Linked DNA regions of Homo sapiens. The protein of the gene in region 1 purifies or fractionates together with the protein of each later gene. This does not show direct contact. Each region holds a gene or a part of one and is shown in the gene's direction. Other genes may lie near its edges.

Evidence for each region. The genes of interacting proteins can lie anywhere in the genome.
Region 2: the proteins of HAX1 (region 1) and HPCA purify together in Homo sapiens (affinity purification with mass spectrometry; 3 studies listed by BioGRID and IntAct, with this or other methods). This does not show direct contact.
Region 3: the proteins of HAX1 (region 1) and SYN1 purify together in Homo sapiens (affinity purification with mass spectrometry; 3 studies listed by BioGRID and IntAct, with this or other methods). This does not show direct contact.

What each region holds. Positions count from the first base shown.
Region 1 is NC_000001.11:154,267,955-154,275,636, forward strand, and holds the start of HAX1 (HCLS1-associated protein X-1), read left to right. Parts: upstream 1-4,674; 5' UTR 4,675-4,769; coding exon 4,770-4,822; intron 4,823-5,381; coding exon 5,382-5,644; intron 5,645-5,819; coding exon 5,820-6,007; intron 6,008-6,995; coding exon 6,996-7,047; intron 7,048-7,199; coding exon 7,200-7,306; intron 7,307-7,438; coding exon 7,439-7,529; intron 7,530-7,661; coding exon 7,662-7,682. Other genes in the region: UBAP2L (ubiquitin-associated protein 2-like), read left to right, coding at 803-1,000, 1,408-1,458, 2,246-2,341. UniProt on the Homo sapiens protein: Recruits the Arp2/3 complex to the cell cortex and regulates reorganization of the cortical actin cytoskeleton via its interaction with KCNC3 and the Arp2/3 complex. Slows down the rate of inactivation of KCNC3 channels. Promotes GNA13-mediated cell migration.
Region 2 is NC_000001.11:32,889,491-32,895,179, forward strand, and holds the end of HPCA (neuron-specific calcium-binding protein hippocalcin), read left to right. Parts: intron 1-4,033; coding exon 4,034-4,139; intron 4,140-4,274; coding exon 4,275-4,372; 3' UTR 4,373-5,156; downstream 5,157-5,689. Other genes in the region: TMEM54 (transmembrane protein 54), read right to left, coding at 5,315-5,443. UniProt on the Homo sapiens protein: Calcium-binding protein that may play a role in the regulation of voltage-dependent calcium channels. May also play a role in cyclic-nucleotide-mediated signaling through the regulation of adenylate and guanylate cyclases.
Region 3 is NC_000023.11:47,609,825-47,616,857, reverse strand, and holds part of SYN1 (synapsin-1), read left to right. Parts: intron 1-7,033. UniProt on the Homo sapiens protein: Neuronal phosphoprotein that coats synaptic vesicles, and binds to the cytoskeleton. Acts as a regulator of synaptic vesicles trafficking, involved in the control of neurotransmitter release at the pre-synaptic terminal.

The sequences.
Region 1 (7,682 bases):
TCTGGGCTCACCATAACCTCCGCCTCTCGGGTTCAAGCGATTCTCCTGCCTCAGCCTCCCAAGTAGCTGGGATTACAGGCATGTGCCACCATGCCCGGGTAATTTTGTGTTTTTAGTAGAGACGGGGTTTCTTCATGTTTGTCAGGCTGGTCTCAAACTCCTGACCTCAGGTGATCCGCCTGCATTGGCCTCCCAAAATGCTGGGATTACAGGCATGGGCCACTGCGCCCAGCCTTTTTTTTTCTTTTTTTTCTTGAGATGGAGTCTCCCTCTGTCTCCCAGGCTGGAGTGCAGTGGCACAGTCTTGACTCACTGCAACCTCCACCTCCCAGGTTCAAGTGATTCTCCTGCCTCAGACTCCCAAGTAGCTGGATTACAGGCGCCCGCCACCATGCCCGGCTAATTTTTGTATTTTTAGTAGAGACGGGGTTTCACCATATTGGCCAGACTGGTCTTAAACTCCTGACCTTGTGTGATCCACCCATCTTGGCCTCCCAAAGTGCTGGGATTACAGATGTGAGCCACCATGCCCAGCCTATTTGGTCTTTACAACAGGTTTGTAGCATCCCTGTTTTATATCTGAGGAAACTGAGGCTAAGAGATTGAGTAGTATGCCCAGGTTCACACAGTTCTTAAATAAGAGCAGAGCTGAGACTGAGACCTGAATATGTGACTTCAAGTGTACTGTGCCTTCTGTGACACCATGCTGCTTTCTGAGGGTCAGGGAGCTTGAGCTCAGGAAAAATCCCAAGACTAGTTTGCTGATCCCTTTTACTCTGTCTCCTCCTGGCCTCCTGGATAGCAGTCCTTTGAGAAACAAGGTTTTCATTCCGGTACTCCTGCTGCTTCCTTCAACTTGCCTTCAGCCCTAGGAAGTGGGGGCCCCATCAATCCGGCCACAGCTGCTGCCTACCCACCTGCCCCCTTTATGCACATTCTGACCCCCCATCAGCAGCCGCATTCTCAGATCCTTCACCATCACCTGCAGCAGGATGGCCAGGTAATAGCCCTTCCCCTTCTCTCCTTTCCCTTCCTCTTCCTTCCTATCCCTTAAAACTGCCTTCCCTTTCCTTTTCTTACCCTTCCTCACCACCACCTTCACCCAATCCCTCCCCAGCGCCAGTCATGGGCACACAGCACATACAGACACAAGCGCACATAACACGAGCGGCCGGCAAAGGAAATCTCAGAGAAGGGCCGGGTTGAAACCTTTTTTGCCCAATTCCTTTGGTGCCCTTCTCCTCCTGTGCCACAGTTGTCCTCATCCCATCAGACCTGGGTCACACCTTCCCTCTTTCCTCTCCCAGCCTTCCCTCTTCCCTGACATTTTAGCTTTCCCTTCTAATGGTGGAGTTCTATTGTCAAAGTTTGTCCCTTTATTTTCCATATATCCTGGTTCTGCCTCAGCTACCATATTTGCAGATGATTCTCTGTTGCCAGCGCCAGCAGGAGGAGCAGGTAATGAAATTGAATGATCATATGCTTGAACCCACTCCTTTTCAGTCCCCATTTCACCTTCACAGCCTCAGGGAACTTGAAAAGACTGCGCGGTCACAAATCGGGATACACAAACACAAACACCTTGCTGAGCTCTCTGGCCTCCCCTTCCTCTCTCCTCCTCCCCTCCCCAACACCCTCTTTATCTTTGTACCCTTCCCCAGCTGTGGAAAACATTCGGTTACCAGAATGGAAAAGATTCTTGGGGCAGCATCTGGAGCCTGAGGCCTCAGACTGCCTCTCATACCTGCCTGAAATGGGCTCACAGATGTGATGTGTGGTAGGGGTGGGGATCTGTGGGGCGATGCAAGTGGCCTCTTGAGAGCTCCATTATAGGTGGCTGGAGCTAGAATAAGGGCTTCCTTCCTCAAAGACAGCTTTCCAAATTGAGGCATTAATGGGGATCAATGGAAATGAAATTGCCTTGTGATCACCCATCTCCAAGAGCAGGGGAGAGAGGGGGTAGTGTGAGAATGTAGAATTGAAAATGAGTAGAACTCACTCACTACCTTGTCTCTAAAGGTATCTTGCCCTCTTCATCTTTTCCCTATTTAAAAGTCAAAAATGCCTTCCTGCTTGTAAGAAAGGGGCTTTAGCAGCTATGCAGACCAAATTTTCTATGGTTCTAATAGTAGTGAGGGGAATGGGAGAGCAAGACAGTTTGCACATCTCCACCTGAAGATGTTACAAATTTGTACCACTAACTAGACACCTTTTTCCTCCTCATGATCCTCCCATTCCCCTGCAGACGGGCAGCGGGCAACGTAGCCAGACCAGCTCCATCCCGCAGAAGCCCCAGACCAACAAGTCTGCCTACAACAGCTACAGCTGGGGGGCCAACTGAGGCCCTGACCCTCTTCTCCCGGTCCCATCTTCTGAGAGGGCTTCTCAGCCTGGAAACTATGGAAACAGCATCAAAGAGAAAGGAATGTGGGGGGTTTCCGCTGCCCCCCACCCCCAGCGGCCCACCCCATGCCTCAGCTTCATGTCTGTCCCATTCCTATACCATCCCCACCCTGTTGTATGTATTATAGGATTTGTATTTTCTCCTTTTTTTTCCCCCTTCCATTCCTTCTCCCCTCTTGCATTCAAGATTATGAAACTTTGCTATGGGCCCTGCACTTCCTTTGCTTCCTCCTGTTCACCCTGGTGGTGTACGGATGAGGCGGGGAGGTGGGACCCCCAAACATATATCAGCCCAACAGCCCTAAGTCTCCTTCTTTATTATTAGGAAAACAACAACAACAACAAACAAAAAAATGGCGTCATGAATATGAACAGCATTGTCAGATGAATTAGTTGAAGTGGTTTTTTTTTTGTTTTTTTTTTTTTTTTGTACTGTGTCCTCAAATTTAATGGATTAATGTGTCTTGTATATATAAAAAGAAAACCTCTACCTTCAGCCTCTGCCTATTCTTGCTCCGTCTAGGACATCCTCAATTTCGTCGATGACCAGCTTGGTGAATAAGTATTACTGTACCAACTGGGCCTCCTCTAGCAGGCCCCTGAAGGCAGTGGAATAAAATGAAATCTTCGCCCTTTAAGAACTCCTGACCTTAATGTGGTAGTAGTATCTTGTCCTTGAGGGGATTTCCTTCCCCTCACCCCTAAGACTTTCACAACCTGGTGACTGGAAAGAACCACCACAAATCTTCATTTCCTCCAGAAACTGCTACATCTACAGCCGATTTCAGGCAGTAAAGGGAGAGGGATAGAGGAGATTGGGTGGAAAATGGAGAGGATCAAGAAGGAGCTGAGACCATTTCAAAGAAAAAAAATGCTTTATAGAGTTTTAAGTATGACTTAGATGGGTCCAGGCAAATAAACTAAAAAGAAGTGAAGGCAACATGTATCGTCTGGCAGAACTAAATCTTGGAGTGGGGTGAGGGATGAAAGACTACATATTGGGTACAGTGTACACTGCTCGGGTGATGGGTGCGCTAAAGTCGCAGAAATCACTAAAGAACTCATCCATGTAACCAAACACCACCTGTACCCCAAAAACGAAATAAAAAAACAAAACCTTGGGGCCCATTCCCCCTAGGAATGGACTACTGTAGTAGTGGCTTCTTGGATGCTTCTCTGTGACATAGCTATACCCAATTCTTTGAAAAAGAATCTAGAGCAAGGTCTGGCTTGGGGATGGGGTACAGGGAGAGACAGGTCTCGGAGAGGTTTTGAACAAAACACTTTTAAAAAGGAATGAGGACAGGCGCTTTGGGAGGCTGGGTTGGGCGGATCACCTTAGGTCAGGAGTTCGAGACCAGCCTGGTCAACATGGTGAAACCCCGTTTCTACAAAAAATACAAAAGTAGCCGGGCGTGGAGGCGCATGACTGTAATCCCAGCTACTCGGGAGGCTGAGACAGGAGAGAACCTGGGAGGCGAAGGTTGCAGTGAGCCGACATGGTGCCACTGCACTCCAGCCTGGGAAACATGAGAGAAAACTCTGTCTCAAAAAAAAAAAAAAAAAAAAAAAAAAAAAGATACCAAAGGGATATTTCTTTATAACCCCCAATTTGTTCCTTCTCAGGACTCAACTAGCTTCCCTTCCCTTGCTTTCTTAAAAATCCTTTGTCTTGCTGGTTGCAGAGCCTGCTTAGAAAAAAGAATTCTATATAGTTATAACAAACTCCCTAGTAGCTAGAGAGGTGGAGGAAGTTAAGTCCATGCGTCTCTTATGTCTTGATCTCTTCTCTGGGAAATTCAATACTAGAAGGAGCTTGGAAAAGCATTTTGTTCATCCCTCTAACAGCAGACATCGCCCAGGTCAGTCAAAAAGAACGCCCGAGTAAGGAGCGAGGTGGCTTCTGCTGTGAGGCTGGCCAGCCCCGCGGGTGGGGTGGTTGAGGGACGCCCTCAAGCCGGTCCATTTGTGCGGCTGGGCTGCCCTCTGGCGGCTTTATCCGGGTGCCATCCAGAGTCAAACCCTCGAAATCGCTTTTCGTACTGAGTTGGTCTGCAGAAAGAAGAACAGATTTAGGAGGAAGGCGGTCATAGGAAACTGAAAGTGCGTCACGCCCACTCCCGTCACGGAAACTGGTCTCTGAAAGGTGGGGTAAAGATAAAGCCTTTCAAATTTGAGGAAGACCTTCGGTCCCGCCTCCATTTCACGTCCGGCTTACCGTCGTTTACGACAGTGTCAGGATCGCGGGCTTGCTTTCCGGTAGCGTGGGCTGACGCCTCGCTCAATTTCTCACAGGGCTGCGCAGGTTTCCCCCGTCTGCGAATGGACCACTGGAGGGGTTCAAAGGTTCGCGTCCCAGTACGGGAATGAGCCTCTTTGATCTCTTCCGGGGCTTTTTCGGCTTTCCTGGACCTCGGAGGTGAGAGTAGGTCCGGCTCGGACAAGGGTGGGGGTCGTCTGAGGGGAGCTTGACCCCTACGTCTTATTTTTGGAAAAACATCCTCTGTCCCACTCCTTCAACTCCTGCAGAGAGGACAGAAGTCGCAACATTGAACACTCACCCCGCCACAGTAACCAAGGCGGTCATTAAGAGGAGAAACAGCAAACTAAGCCTTTCTCCAACCTGGGGTGATGCAACAGGGACCCGGGCGGGGAAGACCGTGAGGGTCTGGGGAATAAGACAGTGAGCAAGTGAGCAGGACCTTGGGAGAGAGAGGAGGGACTGGGGCACACTGAAGAAAAACTGGGGGAAGGTGTATGAAGGGAGCTGCGAGCTGAGGTCTGACTTTGATTAAAAAAAAAAAAAAAAAAAAAGAACTGTCAGCCATTGTATTAATGTTTTGATGTGGCAGCCAGTCCTCCGACCCTCTCCCTAGCTTCCCAGACCCCTTGCTCTTGTCCCACTTTGCCACCCATGAGTTGATTTAATGGCTTAAATAGTGCTGAAATATTGGTGGCCAATCTGCCTCCACTCTCAGCCACAGAGATCCCTTTTTTGGAGGGATGACTCGAGATGAAGATGATGATGAGGAAGAAGAAGAAGAAGGGGGCTCATGGGGCCGTGGGAACCCAAGGTTCCATAGTCCTCAGCACCCCCCTGAGGAATTTGGCTTCGGCTTCAGCTTCAGCCCAGGAGGAGGGATACGTTTCCACGATAACTTCGGCTTTGATGACCTAGTACGAGATTTCAATAGCATCTTCAGCGATATGGGGGCCTGGACCTTGCCTTCCCATCCTCCTGGTGTGTGGCTTTCCCTAAGGGGCAACCTGTGGTTTCTGGTGGGTTGGTGGGTGAAATAAAGAGCCTGCAGGGAGTAGCTGGGGGATGGGAAGTGTGAGAAGACTGATGATTTCAGAGAGATTAATAGAGCCCAAGTCCTTTCCCATCCCAGCAAACACCTGCCACCTTTCTGCAGAACTTCCAGGTCCTGAGTCAGAGACACCTGGTGAGAGACTACGGGAGGGACAGACACTTCGGGACTCAATGCTTAAGTATCCAGATAGTCACCAGCCCAGGATCTTTGGGGGGGTCTTGGAGAGTGATGCAAGAAGTGAATCCCCCCAACCAGCACCAGACTGGGGCTCCCAGAGGCCATTTCATAGGGTGAGTATCCCATCTGGTCCTGAAGTGAGAGCTTGTGAGAGACCACTAATAAAGTGCAAAGACTGGCTAGGTGCGGTGGCTCACGCCTGTAATCCCAGCACTTTGGGAGGCCGAGGTGGGCAGATCACCAGAGGTCAGGAGTTGGAGACCAGCCTGGTCAACATGGTGAAACCCCGTGTCTACTAAAAATACAAAAAATTAGCCGGGCATGGTGGCAGGTGCCTGTAATGCCAGCTACTCAGGAGGCTGAGGCAGGAGAATTGGTTGAACCCAGGAGGTGGAGACTCCATCTCAAAAATTGTTTGAGACCCAGCCTTGCTCTGTTGCCCAGGCTGTAGTGCCGTGGCACAATCTCAGCTCACTGCAACCTCCAATTCCCAGGTTCAAGTGATTCTCCTGCCTCAGCCTCCTGAGTAGCTGGGATTACAGTCGCCTGCCAAACGCCCAGCTAATTTTTGTGTTTTTAGTAGAGATGGCGTTTCACCGTGTTGGCCAGGCTGCTTTTGAGCTCCTGACCTCAGGTGATCCACCCACCTCGGCCTCCCAAAGTGCTGGAATTACAAGTGTGAGCCATCATGCCTGGCCAAAGATTGCAATTCTTGTTTGAATCTGATAGCCTTGGGTTGGAATCCTAAGCCCTCCATTTAGTGTTTTCTGTTTTCTATATTAAGCTTGTGGGATTTTCTTTGGGGGGAGATGGGTGTTCTGTTTCTTTTAAAAAACAAAAACAAAAAAACACCACTGGTCTAGATAATTCTTGGATAAGGCAGGATTGTGCACAGAGGATAGGAATATATCAGTTCAGGAAGTCTTTCTGGTAGAAGGATACATAAAACAGCCAGGAAGGAGTGTGTAAATAAGGCTATTCTGAATGGAATTATCTCTTCTGTGGAAGGGGGTTTTGGAGCTCGGGAGTAGTTTGAGGTCTATGACCTTTCAAATTTCAGATTGGAAGGAGTCTTTTCACTTACTATGGTTTCTTCTGCAGTTTGATGATGTATGGCCTATGGACCCCCATCCTAGAACCAGAGAGGACAATGGTAAGTCTGGAGGAAGGGGAAGTTTACCAGCCTTTTGTTATTCTTCTGAAGTTCTGTGTGTTCTCCCTCCCTGAAGTTTCTTCCTGTACACTTGTCTCCTTTTTTCCTTTGGACTCTTTCTCTCCTGCTTCTTCATCTCTCTGCTCTTCCAGATCTTGATTCCCAGGTTTCCCAGGAGGGTCTTGGCCCGGTTCTACAGCCCCAGCCCAAATCCTATTTCAAGAGCATCTCTGTGACCAAGATCACTAAACCAGATGGGGTGAGTTGAAAGAAAGAGGTAAAGGAAAGTATGGCCAGGGAACGAATGCCCTGAAACAGGGATCTGTGTAAAGAAACTGCTGAGCATAACCTTTAGTAACATTCGGAATATGGTGGGGACTTCTCTTTGTAGATAGTGGAGGAGCGCCGGACTGTGGTGGACAGTGAGGGCCGGACAGAGACTACAGTAACCCGACACGAAGCAGATAGCAGTCCTAGGGGTGGTAAGTTAAAAGACAAAGGGGTTCATCTCAAGATTCCTTGGGGAAGGGAAATCTTACTCTTCTACCCTTGTCCTTTGCTTCTGCCTAGTCTCTTTCATTTAGCCTATTTACGTGTATGACTTTCTTCCTTAGATCCAGAATCACCAAGACCTC
Region 2 (5,689 bases), about 120 Mb from region 1:
TTTCCCACAGTTGCTTCATCATTATCAGTGTGTGTGTGCGTGTGTGCACACTAGTGTGTAACATTTTCTTGCTGTTCTGAACATTGGCCCTTTACCCCTGGATACATTAGGATATATTTCCTAAAAATAAGCACATTCTCTTACATAACCCATAATATGATTACCAAAGCCAGGATATTTAACATAGAAACAATGCTATTATCTAATCTACCAACCATATTCCAATTTTGCCAACTGTCTCCATAATGTTCTTTATAGCATTTTTGGCCCTGACCTGGGGTCATGCATTGCATCTAGTTCTCATGTCTCTTTAGCCCCCTTTAATCTGGAATAGCTCCTCATCCTTTCTTTATCTTTTATGAATTGACATTTCTGCAGAGCACAGTCCAGCTATGTCTAGTTGATCCTCATTTACACCAGAGGAAACGGATGCTCAGAGAGATAAAGGCACTTGCTTGAGGCCACACAGCCTGTGTGAGTGGGCCATCTGGCACCACTGTCTACATTCCATCTGGATACCCAGCCATCTTCTAACTAATTGATTGAGGGCCCACTATGAGCCTAGCATTGAGTGAGGTGCTCATGAGCTCAGTGCGTGCTTACAACAACCCCATGAGGCTCAGAGAGGTGAGGTGATGTGCCCAAAATCACACAGCACATAAGTGGAGAAAAGCTCTGGCTGGCCACTACTTAGAGCTGTCTACTGAGAGGGCTCTGGACTCATAGCCAGGAGGTCTGGCTTCCAGTTCTGGAAGTGGCCTTCAATCTTAGGTTGCTCATCTGTACGCTCATACTGACTTCACAAGGAGATTTAAGGACCGGATATAAATGCCTTTTGTTAGTACAAGTTTAAGTGTGCTGCATGTTAGCTTTATTTCAGAAACCACCCATCCCCTCAGCCCAGCCTTGAAGATGGCCAGGGCTCTGGCTCTATTTTATCTGCCTTTTTCCTAAGGCTTTACACATTTTTTCACCTGTAAAGTGGGGGTGTTAATCCCCTGCCTCACAAGGCTATTGCAGGGATAGAGTGAGATAAGGACTTGAGCGGAAGGCTTGGCATATAATTGGTACTTGGTAGACATTAGCAATTGTCTGTTATTATTTTCTCCTCTGCACATCCTCTGCTCTAGCCAGAAGGGCCTTTTCAGCATCTTTGAAATGTGCCCTGACTAATCCTGTCACGCAGCTTTGCACAAGCTCTTGCCCCCTTTCCTTCTGCATCTCTGAATCCTTTCCCTTCTGGTCCCTCAGCTCCACAGACTGCTGCCCCAGCCACTGCTGGACTCTTGACTTTGGCTTCTCCTCTTGCTAAGGTCTGGGTCTTCTCTCCAGGTGGAGATGTGATGCCCTCCCCATACCTATGGCTAGAGAGGGGAAAGCCCTAATGTTTGCCATGGACTCCTGTGAGCCAGGCATTTGACTCTTTAGTTGCTTGATGGTAGGGGGATCTGGGGGTCCTGATGGTAGGGCCAGGTGGCCAGAATGGTGGAGGATCACCCGGACATGGACAGCAGCTGGGTACTGACTATCTGAAGGAATGTTGGCATTTTACCACTTAGTGTGTTGCACTGGTGTGTACTGGTAAACCCCAGTCCTGCTGGAGCCACCACGCCCGGGTGTCAGTCAAGCTAGACCCATTCCCTGGGCATCCTCAGGACCCCTTTCTGGTGGCCTCTGCTATCCAGACCCTGGCTTCTTTTAGGGCGGCCCGGGGGCCCCAGACAGCTGGTGCACACAGAGCTCTGCAAGCCCCAGTGCCTGATTAATGACAAGTTGGCTCCCATGAAACCATGAGTAAGCAGCAATTCCAGACAATTAGTTAGGAGGCCCAGGAGAAGGCTATCACAGGGTTACTGGTCACTGGCCCAGTTCTTCTCAAGACCCAGCCCTCTGCCAGGTAATGGACACACTGGAGAGGAAGAGACTGCGCCTCTTGGGGCTCCCACTCTGGTGGGGGAGACAGATGTGTAGGTCACACTGACAAGCTCAGTGACAGGGGTGTAAAGGTGTCATCTGGGAACCAGGGGACTACTGAGTGGCAGGGAAGACTTGAGGATGTGGAGGATGAATAATGACTATAATATGAGCTGCTGTTTACTGACCACCCACTCTAGCCAGCCACGGTTCCTCACACATAATCTCATTTAATCTGAGGAAACTGAGGCTCACAGATACATATATGTCCAAGGCTACACAGTTAGTGAGTAGTTCAACCAGGACACCACTCCAGGTCCATCTAACTTTAGAAACTTGAGACTACCAGACCCCTCTATTCATGTGCTGGTCAGACAGGTAGTGATATCCAGTCACAACTGTGGCTACCATTCATTGAGCAGTTACTACAGACCGGGTCTAATGCTAAAGGCCCTGCTGATTATCACCACCCCACACTGCCCAAGCATCCCTCCAGCAGCTAAGAGGGAACAGGTACAAATCGAGTCTCTGCCATCAATTTCCTTCTGAGCCTCAGTTTCTTATCTGGAAAATGGGGATCATGATACCTGTTTTTCAGGGCTTGCGTGAGGTTTAGAAATAGTGCATGTGAAGTACTTGGCACAGAGCGGGCCCCTGATAAGTGGTACTTAGTATCGTTATTCCAGGCAAAGACTGTAAATGCTGGAGAATCTGAAGGGCCAGGGGTGTTTGGCTGTTGGCAGAATCACCCAGCCAGGGGAGACCTGATGGAGGAGGGTCAGCAGTGGACAGATTGTAAAGCGTCTTAAATCCCAAGGGCTGAATGGTTTGAACTTGGTACAGAGGGCAGTGGGAAGTGCCAATGGCTTTTAAATAGGGAAGTCCCTGCCTGGTCCCAGGTTCTGGGGATATGGGCATTAGCTAGACGTCCATGTTTGCAGGAACAACCCTGCAAAGACATAATTACTTCTGGAGAGATGTCTGCAAAGGAAAAGTCCGCCAGGCTCTGGGCCCATATGCACCCTGACCCAGCCTGGGTTGGAGAAGACCTCGCTAAGAAAACAGCTTGTAAACTGAGCCCCAAGGAGAAGTGGGAAGCAGCAGCAGGAGCTGGGTGCAAGGCGGGCCTAAGAGGAGGCCTGTGTGTGACGGGAGTGAGGGGGTGGTGTGCAGGCTGGGGACGTAACAGTGGAGATCTGTGTTCGGAAAGAGCTTTCAGAGGCAGCATGGGGGACAGACCCGAGGGACAGAGGCTGGAAGAGACCAGTGTGGAGGCTGAAGCTGGATCTGAGGCAGCAGAAGTTTATGGGATGGGAGAAGGGAGGCTTCTTGGAGGAAGTGTCGGTCGGGTAAAGCTGGAAGATTGAGGAGACAGGTTCGGTCCTTGAGCTCCAAGGCACTGCGACCCAGGCTACAGGCCAAGCCCTACGTGCTCTGTACATTTAGCGCAAGAACTCTCTTTCACGTCGCCTCGGGAGCTACTGCACGTGGCGGCTGCCGCCCTCTGCCCAGCCCAGCCTAGCCAAGCCTGGCGGTCCCTGCCCGCTGCAGATGCTCATTTGCATTCATTTGCATACTGTTCCCCGCCCCTCTGGGCCCAGCTGCCTCTGGCCCTCCAGCCCGCGCCGCGCCCCCTGCCGGCAGCAGACGGCCCCGCAGCGCAGTGCCGCCCCCTTGGCCCGGCGCCCCCTTTCGACCACCGAGCGCGGGCCGCCCTGGGCCCGGGTGCCAGCCCGGTACTTACCCCCGACGCGCGTGCCCCGGGGCACGCGCTCCTGAGCCCGCCGCTCCAGGCCCTCCACTGTCGGGCCCCGGTGTCCTCCAACATCTCTCCTGACCCCTGCGCCCGCTCGGAGCTTCCACCTGCGGCGCCTTTGCTCCTTTCCCACCCAGCCCTCCAAGGGAGCGCGGCAGGGCCCGCCCGATAGCCCTCTCTTCTGGGAGGCCTTCCCGGACACGCCTTCCCGAAGCCCTCGGCTCCCCACGCCTCCGTGATTCCCCACTCCACCTTGCCCAGGCGGGGGCAGCAAACGTCAGAGAGCCCGGGGGCGCCTCTGAATCTTGCGGGTGGGGGCTCGGGCAGGCTCCTCTCACTCCCCGCCTCCCCTCCCGCCCCCAGGCCATTTACAAGATGGTTTCGTCCGTGATGAAGATGCCGGAGGACGAGTCGACCCCGGAAAAGAGGACTGAGAAAATCTTCCGCCAAATGGACACAAACAACGACGGTGAGGGGCAGGGGCGGGACGGGGTGGACGGGGCGGGCGCCTTTCCCTCCCTCCCTCCCTGCCTCCCTTTCCCGCTCCGCCTCCCCTCGCTAGGCTGCCGCCTCCTCCCCCATCACCGCTCCCCTCGCCCTGCAGGCAAGCTGTCCTTGGAGGAGTTCATCCGCGGGGCCAAAAGCGACCCGTCCATCGTGCGTCTGCTGCAGTGCGACCCCAGCAGCGCCTCCCAGTTCTGAGAGGAGCCAGGTTCCCCTTCCTCCCTCCCTTCACCGGCCCCCTCCCGGCTCTTAGCTTCCACTCCCTTGTGTGTATTCTGGCTGGGGGCCAGATTGGGGAAGCCCTTCTCCCCGGGTCTGCCCTGTGGGGGGCTTCCGGAAAAGGGAACCCTGCGGTACCCCCAGGCCAAAGCAAGTAAGCGGTTAGCACCCCCCAATCCCAGAGGCAACAATAGAGACACAGGCTGGGTTGGTCTGCCCCTCAGTCAGGCCCCCTTACCCACCCACCAGCCCCAAGGCCCGACCCCTCCCCCAAAGGGGCAGTCCCCTTCTTGCAGGTCTCAGCTTGCGGGGTGGGGGGAGTCATGCCCAGGGGAGGAGACTTTTTATCTGGAGGGGAGAGAAGGATTCTAGGGGTGTGGAGTTGGAGAAAGAGGCTTCCTTGAGCCACCCTTCCCACCCCAGCCCTTGCTGGTCCCTAGGCCAAGCCACCAAGTGAAACCTTCCAGGATACTAGCCCGCCAGCTGTGGGCCCCAGAAAGCCAGCCTGCCTTTTAGCACTTGGATACACACAGACCCACGGAGCTCTCTGTGTTTGGCCTCTCACACACACACAGGCCCATAGACAGATGGGCAGATGCACCCAGAGCCCCATGCACAGTGTCCTGCGTGGGAAAGAGACACGGTCCCCCTGGCTGAGCCCCTGTCCTCCCCTCTGTCCCCCCAACCGCCCCCCCTGCATGCAGCCAAATGGAGCATCTCTGTTCTTTTTAATAATTTCAGAATAAAGTCTCATTTCAGTGCAGTGGGCTGGGTGGTGGGGGAGAGGGTTGAAAGCCCCACTTGGGTCCCCGAGGGTCCATTGAGCCCTCTCAGGCCAGCTCCAGGAATCCTGGCCTGGTCACAGAGCAGAGTTGCTTGCAGGGTCCTAGTGGCCATCGGGCCTGGGCAGGACATCATCTCTCAGAGGGTCAGAGGCTCAGAGCTGGTGCAGCTCAGCAGGTCACGGCCCTCCACCAGCTCTGGGTTCTCCCGCATCTGCAGAGACACAGGAGGCTGCCAGACCCACTGGTTCTCAGCCTGGGTCTCCTCCTCCAGGACATCCGGGAAATGGAAGGAGGTGAGGGCTGGAAGGCTCTCTGGGGGCAAAGGGGCATCACTACCCACTCCACTGCAAGAGCCAGGCCTGACCTTTGCAATGCCCTCAGTGCGAGCCCAGACACCCCTGCCCCTCCCTCAAGACTCATCCTGGGCCCTAGGAGAGCCAGGTGTCAGCTGTGTGACTCTGCTGGGAGATCTCACCTCTCCCAGCCTCCAGGCCTCTCCCTTTGCTCCTGG
Region 3 (7,033 bases), on another chromosome or scaffold:
ATCCTGAAAGCTCACAATGTGCACTGTTTTCCATTTATTCTAGCTAGGCCTCTTCCTCCACTTAGTAGCCATCTCCCCAGCTGCCTTTTTCTCCCCGAATTAGTCCAGAAAACACTTATTAATCTCTTACTGTATTATTTTCAAACAGCCACATTATCATCCCTGCAGCAGGCTTCTCCGCTTTTTTCTCTATCAATCTGTAAAGCATTTATGGAGCACGTGCTGTAATTCCTTCACCAACGTCCACTCACCAACGTGTTATCTTCCTGGTTAAGTTTGCTCCATTGAAGTCAGCAAACATCAATGAGGCCTCTGCTGGATATAGGTAATCACCCTCCTTTAGACTTCCGGTCTCCACTCCAGCCCTCCATGCAGGTCCTTTGCGTCTGCTTCCTTCTTTCCATCAAGCATTTATTATCTATGGAATACTGACAAGTCCCTTCCCCTTTCCATAATCACAAATTCAATGTTTTCCATTTTTTCTTTGTCCAGAAAACATTTATTGAGCACCTGCTGAATTCAGTGAAAGATCCATCCCTTCCCCTTCTGCATCTCAGAAGCCCCCCTTTATCCCAGCATCCCCTCCAGTCTTTTCTTCCAGGCAATCTAGCAAATATTTATTTAGTGTCTACTATATGTGGGGTGGGGTGGACAAAGGGACAGAGCCTATGTATGTACGCCAGGCTCAGTGTGGGGAACAGAGACCTGTTTTACCAACTTGCAGACACTCAGAACCACACTAGCTTCAGGGATTTCAGCCCCAAATAAAGCAGGAGTTGTGCAAACTCTGTGATGGAATGTACACCGAAATACAGTCTGACGCCTTTTCCACCAAACCTCACCACCCTCATTCCTTCCTGGGTCTCAATTCCTCTGTGGTTTAAAGTTGAAAACTCTAAGTTGAGACTCATCTCCCCCATTTTGTGGGTAATTTTGTCCTGTGTTTTTCTTTCTTTTTTTTTTTTTGAGACGGAGTCTTGCTCTGTCGCCCAGGCTGGAGTGCAATGGCACGATCTCGGCTCACTGCAACCTCCGTCTCCTGGGTTCAAGCGAGCCTCCTGAGTAGCTGGGACTACAGGCACATGCCACTATGCCTGGCTAATTTTTGTATTTTTCGTAGAGATGGGGTTTCACCATGTTGGTCAGGCTGGTCTCAAACTTCTGACCTCGTGATCCACCCACCTCGGCCTCCCAGAGTGCTGGGATTACAGGCTTGAGCCACCGTGCCCGGCTCTCTGGTGTTTCTCAAACTATGGGTCACCTATTGGCTTATGACCAGCATTTCACTTTCTTCTTGAAGTAGGATAAATAAAAATAGAGAATAACAGAGCATATTGCACATAGTAAATGGAGTTGTTGTTTAGCAAAACATATAATGTTATTCCATTAAGATATACAATCTGTAATGTATATTATATATGACATACGGTATGTAATACATGTGTTATACAATGGCTTTACAGTACATAATACATCTATATGTATATGTTCTTCTTCATGAAATGAAATAAAATAGCATAGAAAAATCAGACTGCATTACACATAGTAAAGGTAATTATCTATTGAAACTTTAATTCCAGTTATGCATATGTATTTATATACATTCTAAATACATATACACATAATATGTAATATACAACATTTTATATGTTACATAATATATAAGACATTCTATATTCTCATATTTGCTGTACAACATATGTGTCTTATATAATACATATATAGGATGAGTTATTATGCAAATACATATATAGTGGGTTATATAAGCTTTATTTCTTACTGTGGCTTCTTTTCTCAGATATATTTCCCTGGAAGCAGACCCCGAGACTCTGAGATTTGCATGCAGATTTACTGGGGAGAGCGCTTGGGAATAACACCTGTGGGGGAGGTTGTGAGGGAAGCAGGATTGTGCAGAGGGAAAAGTTGAGCTGTGATGCAACCACAAAAGAGGCCTCGGCCAATCCTCTGGGGAGCTCTGGCACTGGAATGACCCTTCAGAGTTGTCCCAGTTGAAGCGGGGTGGCCAGGCTTTGAATTCCTATGTCAGTCATTGGCTGTAGGCTGCCCCCTGGGAGGAGGCGTAATCTTGGGTGAGGCAAATCCCTGTTGCAGAGGCCAATGCCCAGTGAGGGACACCTATGAGCCATCAGCAGCGGATAATTCCAGAAGCTGAGGATAGATGCAAAGGTCTGGAACAAGGAGGTAAGGATCTGGGGGGAGCATATAGTCCACACCTTGCACTGCTCCGATCCACTTCCTTCTTATAGTAAGTTCACCCCATTGGGGAACGGCATTTCCAGAATTCTAATCGGTCTTGTTTTCTCAGGGACACTTGAAAGAGCACGGTAGTGAGATGAGCCATAGTCTCTGCTGCTGCAGTTGATTTCAACGTCATAAATGATATTCATCCTCTCCTTCTTTTGTTACCCATTCTAGATTCCCCCCACCCTCAGCTAGCACCACTCTTGGTCTGGGTGGCTCCCATCCTGCAGAGATCCCTGAGCCTTTGGTCCCCATGCCCTTCTCAGGCTGTAGCTGCTGTACAAACAACCACATTTCCCATTTACTATCAAAGTTGAGCAAGGAGTACCAACAGATGCCCAAGTGGATCCCCTGGGTGCCAGACATACTCCTCCCTGCCTCCACTGTGTACCAGCAGCTCTACCTCCTCCTGAGGAGCAAGGTTGGTCACGTCCCCTGCCAAGACAATGGCTCCTTTTTATGTCCCTTGGCATGAGAAACACGAAGTGCCCTGAGGGCAATCATAGCTTACAGTTTAATGGGATTCTTGCTGTGTCCCCTGGTAGCAGTGTTCCCCCTTGGAGAACCAGGACCTCTAACCTTGCAGAGCCCTGAGGGAACAGGAAGCACAATTTCAAAAGTGGATCACTGGGATTGCTGGTAAGCTGGGCCACTCCTTCCTAACCTCTGTGTCCCCAAACCGGTGTATTCTACCTGTTAGGAACACAGCACCTACAATGGCCATTGATTTAGGGTTGACACTGTTTTGGAGGATGGTGCCCATTCTTGCATGATCTCACCTTCAACCTGGGATCTTAGCTGTGGCTGCACCAAATTGTTCCATCATTCCATCAGGCCAGCAGCTCCCGGGTGGCGTGGTGTGTAATACCATCAGTTAATTCCATGGTCATGGGCCCACTTTTGCACCTCCTTTGCTTTGCATTCCTTTACTTTGCTATAAAGTGTGTCCTTTGGTTTGACGCAGTGTTATGCAGGGTCTCGTGCTGGTGGATCAAACGTTATGTAAGCCCTTAGACAGTGAGCTGGCTGAGGTCCTGCAGTAAGAAAAGGCAAACTCAAATATGGAATATTCCAGTCAAAATCGATTACTGTTCTTTGCAGGATGGAAGGGGCCCAATCTAATCAGCTTGCCACAAAGTGGTTGGTTGGCCTTCTGGAGGGATGGTGGCGTGTCAGGGATTCAATGTTAGTCTCTGTTGCTGGCAGATTGGACATTCAGCAGTAACACTGCTGCCCCCACACATAGCTTCTCTCTCTGCTGCTATTGCCACTTATTCATGTGCCCATCTGCTAACACTGGGGTGGCTGATTAGAGCCTGGCTGACATCATCGGGCTGACTCATGCTGTCTACCTGGTTGCCTAGTGTCACTTCCATGGCGCCATGGCAGATGCTGTCTGGTGGGTGTTAACACACGATCCAAAGATCCTCGCTCCTCCCTTTTTTTTTTTTTTTTTTTTTTTTTGGAGACGGAGTCTCGCTCTATTGCCCAGGCTGGTGCTGTGGCACGATCTTGGCTCAGTGCAACCTCCACCTCCCAGGTTGAAGCAATTCCCCTGCCTCAGCCTCCCGAGTAGCTGGGATTACAGGCGTGCGCCACCACGCCCGGCTAATTTTTGTATTTTTAGTAGAGATGGGGTTTCACCACATTGGCTAAGCTGGTCTTGAACTCCTGACCTCAGGTAATCCGCCCACCTCGGCCTCCCAAAGTGCTGGGATTACAGGCGTGAGCCACCGCGCCCAGTCTCACTCCTCATTTCTTGCCCACTCCTAGGTGTCTGCCCACATTTCTGTATCCCAGACCTCTTTGTCTGGATCTTCCAGTCTTTTTATTTCCAGGCCCCTGACCAACCAGCCAAACCATTTACCACTGCCCATAAGTGGATATATGTATTCTAATCTTGAGGCACTTCTCTTTCTGCACAAAGGAGATGAGCAGGTGCACAGCCTGAAGCTCTGCCCACTGGGAGCTCTGCCACTGTCTTTCAAGGCCATTCCAGTTGGGTTATAGTGCAACCACTGCCCATTTTTGGCTTCCACCCACATACTAAGACAACCAATTTGTGAACCAAGCTTAGACCTTTCCCTCTTTCATCAGCTAGTTTTAAGGAGTCCCCTTAGTGAGACAGGCACTAGCACAACAGTGTGGAAGACATGGGGATCAGGGTTACTTACCTGCTCATGCACCTTGCTTGGTTCTGCTTGGGCTCAATCCTGACTGCTGGGCCCACCTGACTTTATTATTTGGCGGGCCCAGCAGGACCCAGCTTATAATGGGAACTTCTGGATGCACAATCATTTGGTGCCTGGTCAAGCATTCTGTCTCTATCAGGGCCCAGCACCTCAATGGGGTGTCTTTCTCAAAAGGCGTAAAATTCTCTGCTGCAGATGGCATGGCTTTGCTCCAGAACCCCAAGGGCCTCCCACTCAGGCTTCCCATAAGCTCCTCACTGCATCTTTCCCCACTACTGACACCTCCAGTATCATAAGATCTGCCAGATCATCTGGCCTAAATGGCAGGACTGCTTGTACCACAGCCTGGACCTGCTGCAGAGCCCTTTTCTGCTCTGGCCCTCACACAAAGCTGGTAGCTTTACATGTCGCCTGGAATATGGGTCAGAGCATTATTTGTGTGTGGGGGACATGCTGCCTCCAGAATGGGAAGAGGCCTCCTAGGTATTGTGCTTTCCTCTTCATGGTGGAAGGTGCGTGATTCAATGCTTTGCTCTATTCTTTGGAGGGGCTGTCCTGGTTTACTGCCCTGGACCACTGGATTCCTAAAAATTTTACTAATGCATCGGTCCCCTGAGTCTTTGTGGAGTTTATCCTCCACCCTCTGTAGTGGATGTGTCTTACCAGGGCAATATGCTCACCCTCTCTTGCTCATCTTGCACAATCAGTATGATGTAATCCATGTGGTGGTCCAGTGTGCTATTCCATGGGATGTCCAGATAGTCCAGGTTTCTCTGGACTATATTATGACACCAGGTGAGAGAGATAGCATAGCCCTACAGCAAGACCATCTATGAATATTATCATCAGTCTCATGTGAGTGTAAACTGTTTCTGATCCTTTTTTCTAATCAGAATAAAAAAGAATGCATTTGCCAAGTCAGCAGCCACCTGCTGTACCTGAGGTCTTATTAATCTGCTCTGGCAATGACAGCGTGTCCAGTATGGCAGGTATAACTAAGGGTACTACTTGATTGTGCTTGCAGTAATCTGCAAGCATTCTCCAGGACCCATCTGACCTCTCCAGGGGCCAGACTGCTCAACTCGATGGAGATAAGATGAGACCAACACCCCTGCATCCTTTAGATCTTTCAATGTGGCATTGATTTCCATCATCACCCATAGGATGCACACAATATTGTTTGTGGTTTATTGTTTTGTTCAGGGCATGGGGGTGTGCGCCATTTTAGAAGCTTCTATTTGGACTTCCCTACTGAAACAGCTCTTATCCCACAGGCTGAGGAGCCCATGTAGGGGTTCTGACAACTACAAAGTATGCCATTGCAATTACGCATTTGTGAACTGAGGAAGTGACCACTGGGTGGGTCTCTAGACCCACCAGACCCACTGTAAGCAGGACCTGGGCCAGGACTCATTTATCACCTTACCACTACTGTGCTTCTCAGCGTGACTGGTACCACCCTCACCAGCATGTTTCTTATTAATTTCATAAGTTGAGTGTATCCTCCAGGCCTTAATCAGCTGGTGGGTTTTCCAGACTTCAGTAGTATATCTACTCCAACATGTCTGCTTCTTTGAGCCCTTTAATCCTTCCCTGTGCAATCTGCCATGGAAGTTCTGCTTCACTTAGTGTGGGCCATTGTTTACTCCAGGTTTCCAAATACCAGTGTGTTAGTAACACTTCCTAGAGTCCTCGCCAGGGTTTTAAGTTCCGTATCCTGGGAGAGCACACCAACTTCCTGTTCTACCTCCTTCGCCCATTGTCCTCAGGATCCAGTCTCATGCATACCTTCCCAGCTCCTGCCAATACGTACTAGCCAGATTCTTTAGGTTCTTCTACAGATCATTTCTCTCCCTTTGCAAGCCTAGAACCTGTCCAGTCAGGTTTCACTAGGATTTCACCCTAATTTTTGGTCTGGTTTCCAGGAGGGTAGGTGGGGGGTAGACTCTGAGGGGGGCAGGCATTGTCTTACAAAGCACCTGCATCATCCGAGGCCTCTGCATTATCTTCAAGCAGAAGGTCTATATTCTAACTCAGGGGAGTAGTCTACTTCAGCAGGCCCAGTGGATGCAGGTGAGTCTGTAAGTTCAAGGTGTTTAACTGCATCTGCCCAGATATCCCCATCTCAGAGTCCTACTCCTGTCCTATTAGGGACATGAGCATGGCCCAGGAGATGTGCTGGGCCTGAGAAGTCAACTTTCTCCGAAGCTCCGCCACCACGTAGAATTAAATTCTGAGCCTGGCCCTCCCTTCTGTCTGCCCTCTGACTGCAGGAGATGAGGGTTTCCTTAAATGCAGTCAGGGAGATCCTCTGGCTTTCACATTTTGCCTTGAATTCACCCTGAGCATGTCAGGTCTTTCTTCAGCTACTCAATGGCGTTTAGGGAATAGTCACCCAAGTCTGGTTACCATTTCCCTGACATCACTCAAGTTCCAGGGATATTTCACCATCCAGTACATTCCCTTCCACCAGAATCCCATTACAGCCCACCATCAGGAAAAGTCACCGCTACTCCAAAACCCTGGGGGCCTGCGCTGTATTCTCCCACCTGGGAGAAGAAATTCCACACAGCATCTTT